Linked DNA regions of Homo sapiens: region 1 is linked to region 2. The links come from fine-mapping of genetic effects on gene expression. Tissue or cell type: whole blood. Region 2 holds a variant in brackets; the other region holds the start of a gene. All regions are shown on one strand. Distances are between the middles of the regions.

Evidence for each region. PIP is the estimated chance that this variant, and not a neighbour inherited with it, causes the effect.
Region 1: COG4 starts here. The variant in region 2 is fine-mapped to the expression of COG4 in whole blood (GTEx, PIP above 0.99). The same link has a PIP of 0.9 or more in breast, lymphoblastoid cells, thyroid and transverse colon.

What each region holds. Positions count from the first base shown.
Region 1 is chr16:70,522,100-70,524,599 of GRCh38, forward strand. It overlaps COG4 (component of oligomeric golgi complex 4), which reads right to left and starts at 1,455. Exons shown (of 19, transcript NM_015386.3): 1 at 1,274-1,455. The coding sequence starts at 1,444. It overlaps SF3B3 (splicing factor 3b subunit 3), which reads left to right and starts at 1,717. Exons shown (of 26, transcript NM_012426.5): 1 at 1,717-1,829. RefSeq lists enhancers at 1,088-1,227, 2,261-2,500.
Region 2 is chr16:70,449,122-70,451,877 of GRCh38, forward strand. No RefSeq gene overlaps it. Among named protein-coding and RNA genes, the nearest start is that of FCSK, 4.1 kb to the right of the region's middle. The variant T/C (reference allele first, on the strand shown) is at 1,095.

The DNA.
Region 1 (2,500 bases), 73 kb after region 2:
CAATTCTCCTGCCTCAGCCTCCCGAGTAGCTGGGATTACAGGCATGCGTCACCACACCCGGCTAGTTTTGTATTTTTAGTAGTGATGGTTTTCACCATTTTGGTCATGCTGGTCTCGAACTCCTGACTCAGGTGATCCTCCCGTCTTGGCCTCCCAAAGTGCTGGGATGGCAGGCGTGAGCCACCGCGCCCCGCAAGATACTAAATTTTAAAACACATCTTGCTGAGGCCAGACAAAAAAAGCCCCACACACTAAACTAGCCAGGCACGGTGGTGTGCGCCTCTGGTTTCATCCATTCTGATTGCAGCACAACAGCACTCCAGCCTGCGCAACAGAGAGCGGCCCTGTTTCTAAAAATAACAAAACAAAACAAAAAACACCACACACATCTTGCTGAAAAACGTATCAGAAACTGCTAGAGTTAGTGCAAGTTTATACTTGAAAATACTCAAAGATATCAACGATCACCTCTCCCTCAGGCTGAAACTGCCTTTTGTGCTCAACTTTGCTAGAAGTTTGGTCTGGGAAACAGCTGACAAGCTTAGAGCTTAGATCTCTTTTGACTAGCAAGGAACCCAACTGACATTCGAAAGTGAATTGACAGCATCGAGTTGCCACTGAAAATTAAAGGAGGCAGGAAATAGAACGTTATGAACTGAAAGGAATTGGAGAATAGTCCACACCCCTCATTTGATAAAATATCAAGGGTACCAGAGATGAAGTGACTTGTCCAAGATTAGAGAATTGTGTCTGAGTCTTAAAAGCTAAACCTCTACAAAGATGTGCATTTGACCAAAACGCTAAAATCACACCCCCAAATCACTCCCCACAAGAGGAAGTCTTAAAACGCTTCAAGAAGTTAATCTGCAAAGGCTTCCCTCTTAAATAACAGGATGAGAGCGTTTCATAATTTGTAAATTAAGCCAATGCAAAAGGGCGCTTATTATTTTGAGAACCAAGCAATTTGGCAAATACTCTCAGACTAACTTTACTCCCGTGGAGAAACTGGTGATCATGGATCAGGGAAATCAACGGGGGTCTAGGGAGGAGAGGCTGCAGATCGCCCAGGTATCAGGGAAGACAAGCTCGGCGCGTCCGACAGCGTGAAAAGAGTTGACAGGACTACTCATATACCCGACTAGCTTCCGCTTCTTTGTTTTCCCGCTTTTTTGTATCCCCCAGCAAGGAGAGTTTCCCACAGCCCGGATTTCCCGACTGAAGGCTCCCACTCTCCCTAGATCCTCCATGAAAAAGAAGAGGCTCGACCCCGCACCTCCTCGCCGCAGAGCCGTTCGTATACAGCCTCCAGCTCCTGCAGCTCTGTCAGGGAGCGAATGAGCTCAGCGGAGATTTCGGAGCAGCGGCCACCTCCCACCCCCTCAGACGGCTGCTGCACCCCTGACAGCTTCGGAGGCGAATCAAGGTCCGCCATCTTGGTCCCCATTCGGCACTTCCGGTCCCGCGAGGCCCCCTCTTCGTTGGCGCCTATTTGGGGCTGCCCACAGAAGTGCCCAATGAACTCTAATGGTTTTTTTTTTTTAAAGTCTACTTCTAAAAACGTATTAATTTTCTATTCTCCTGGAAAAAGCAAAGCAATAAAGCATGTTTAAATAATTTGTAATGCCGTGTGGAAGCAAGACGGAAGCATTTTTTAAAAATTATATATATTCTTCAGGCGCGGATTGGGTGCCTTTTTCCGCCGCGCGCCACCAGAATGTCCCTGTCTTGAGGTCTAATGGCGGACGCCAGTATGTTGGAGTTGGTGGTGGCTTAAGTTTTGAAGGGAGGTAGCATCCGTTGGATATCCACACCATCCTTCTCGCTGCAGGGTAAAAAAACAGCCTGGAGACTTCCCCGGGCCCGGGGAGGCGGAGACCGGCCATATGGAAGGGGGACCCGAGACTTTGGCGGGGGTCACGGGCAGTCTAGGCCCGAGAGGCTGGGGACCAGGAGGAGGTACCGAGGGATGGTTGAGGCGCCAAAACGGCTTCCTGCAGTTATCTCTCGCTTCCATCCACAGTGTGGGAACATATTCTATCTCAAAATAGGGCTCGTGGAGATTGCTTTTAACTTCTGGGGACTCTGAGACGGGGGAGGTGTGACAAGCAGCGGGAGGCATGGATGTCTCCCTCTGGGTAGAGTAAATGGTACACCGAGGGGAAGATAGAAAGATGGAGCGTGTTAAAAGCGTAAATAACGGAAACAGTCTTTAGAGCCAAGACTCCGGTTTGAATTTGTATTTTGGTAGTTGGGCAACTTGTCTCCTCCTCTGAACCTCTATTTTCTCGTTTGCGTAATGGAGGACAGAGTTTAAATGCGATGATGTTTCCTTGGAGGATGGAGAAGATGCAGTGAGCAATCATACAAGCTTTTTGTAATAATGGTAAACAGACGTGGGGGAAGTTTTTTTTGTTTTGTTTTGTTTTGTTTTTGTGACGGAGTCACAGTCTGTCGCCCAGACTGGAGAGCAGTGGCGCGATCTCGGCTCACTGCCATCTCT
Region 2 (2,756 bases):
TACAGATTTTTGGGTCTGCTGCTGCACTGAGGGCTTCATTTTACTAAAAACCTTCCTTGAGTTTCTTTGCTCCTCAGGCAAGGAGATGCCAGAGCAGCCTGGAAGCTACCTCTCCTCTACTAACCATACTGCCCTAGGAGGTATAGGGTGGAGCATAAGGCCTCTAAGCTCCTTGGGGGCACACTGTTTTCTTGAGCCCCCACCAAACCCGCAGTTGCAGGCATCCCTACTTCCCACTTCACTGCAGAGCCCAGGACCTGCATTGCTGAGAACAGCAACAGTGAGAGGCAGTTCATCACCTCCCTGGAGGCCTCCTAGGTTCACAGAAGAAACAGCAGGCATTGAAGTGGGAGAAGGAGGATGAGACCTGGGCCAAGTGTAGATGGAGAATGACTCCAGTGGGAGAAGACTGAGGGAAGCAGACAGTGTGAGGAGAAGGTGGGTGGCGAGAGCTGAGCAGAAGGTTGCTCTTCATTCATTCAACCAATTGGGTTTTTTTTTTGAAACAAAGTCTCTCGCTCTGTCGCTCAGGCTGGAGTGCAGTGGTGCAATCCCAGCTCACTGCAACCTCCACCTCCCGGCTTCCAGCGATTCTCCTGCCTCAGCCTCCTGAGTAGCTGGGATTACATGCACCCACCACCATGCCCAACTAATTTTTGTATTTTTAGTAGAGAGAGGATTTCACCATGTTGGCCAGGCTGGTCTCGAACTCCTGACCTCAGGTGATCTTCCTGCCTCGGCCTCCTAAAGTGCTGGGATTATAGGTGTGGGCCACCACACCTGGCCAATCAATTGTTTTTAACCACCTACTGTGTCCGGAATTGGTGGGTTCTTGGTCTCACTAACTTCAAGAATGAAGCCACGGACCCTTGCCGTGAGTGTTACAGCTCTTAAGGTGGTGCGTCTGGAGTTTGTTCCTTCTGACGTTCGGATGTGTTCAGTTTCTTCCTTCTGGTGGGTTCGTGGTCTCCTTGGCTCAGGAGTGAAGCTGCAGACCTTCACGGTGAGAGTTACAGCTCTTAAGGTAGTGCGTCGGGAGTTGTTGGTTCCTCTCGGTGGGCTCCTAGTCTTGCTAGCGTCAAGACTAGAAGCTG[T/C]AGACCTTTGCGGTGAGCGTTACAGCTCATAAAAGGAGTGGGGACCTAAAGAGTAAGCAGCAGCAAGATTTATTGCCAAGAGCGAGATAACAAGACCTCCCCAATACCACAGGGGATCCTAGCAGGTTGCCGCTGCTGGCTCCGCAACCTGCTTTTATTCTCTTATCTGGCCCCACCCACATCCTGTTGATTGGTAGAGCTGAGTGGTCTGTTTTGACAGGGCGCTGATTGGTGTGTTTACAATCCCTGAGCTAGACACAAAGGTTCTCCACGTCCCCACCAGATTAGTTAGATACAGAGTATCGACACAAAGGTTCTCCAAGGCCCCACCAGAGTAGCTAGATACAGAGTGTGGATTGGTGCACTCACAAATGCTGAGCTAGACACAGGGTGCTGATTGGTGTGTTTACAAACCTTGAGCTAGATACAGAGTGCCCATTGGTGTATTTACAATCCCTGAGCTGGACATAAAGGTTCTCCACGTCTCCACCAGACTCAGGAGCCCAGCTGGCTTCACTCAGTGGATCCCGCATTGGGGCTGCATGGTGGAGCTGCTTGCCAGTCCTGCGCCCTGCGCCCGCACTCCTCAGCCCTTGGGTGGTCGATGGGACTGGGCGCCGTGGAGCAGGGAGCGGCGCTCGTCGGGGAGGCTCTGGCGGCACAGGAGCCCACGGCGTGGCTGGGGAGGCTCAGGCATGGCGGGCTGCAGGTCCGGAGCCCTGCCCCGCGGGGAGGCAGTTAAAGCCGGGCGAGAAATCGAGCGCAGCGCCAGTGGGCCGGCACTGCTGGGGGACCCAGCACACCCTCTGCAGCCGCTGGTCGGGGTGTTAAGCCCCTCATTGCCCGGGGCTGGTAGGGTCGGCCGGCTACTCCGAGTGCGGACCCGCCAAGCCCACACCCACCCGGAACTCGTACTGGCCCGCAAGCACCGCGCACAGCCCCGGTTCCCACCCACGCCTCTCCCTCCACACCTCCCTGCAAGCTGAGGGAGCCGGCTCCGGCCTTGGCCAGCCCAAAAAGGGGCTCCCGCAGTGCAGCGGTGGGCTGAAGGGCTCCTCAAGTGCCGCCAAAGCGGGAGCCCAGGCAGAGGAGGCGCGGAGAGCGAACGAGGGCTGTGAGGACTACCAGCACGCTGTCACCTCTCACTACCATGTCCTCAGCACTGTTCTAAGGCCTGAGGATACAATGGTGAACAAACCAAACATCCTGCTTTAATGGAGCAGGATGGGAATAATGACGATAATCATAATGGTTAATACTTTTTGAGTATTTACTATGGAGTCAAGCATTTATCCTACCCTCACAACAATCTCAGATATTTGATACTATTATTAACTTACTTTATAGATGGTTACACAGAGTTAGAGCAGGGTCCATCTCCATTGTGACTGACCTCAGTGCCTCTCAGCCTCATTATTTTGTAAATTTATTTTTTTTTAAATTTTATTTGTTTTTTGAGACAGAATCTCGCTCTGTCACCCAGGCTGGAGTGCAGTGGCACGATCTCAGCTCAGTGCAATTTCCGCCTCCTGGCTTCAAATGACTCTCCTGACTCAGCTTGCCGAATAACTGAATTACAGGCTCCTGCCACCACGCCTGGCTAATTTTTGTATTTAAAAAATTGGCCATTGGCGGCCGGGCACTGTGGCTCATGCGTGTAAT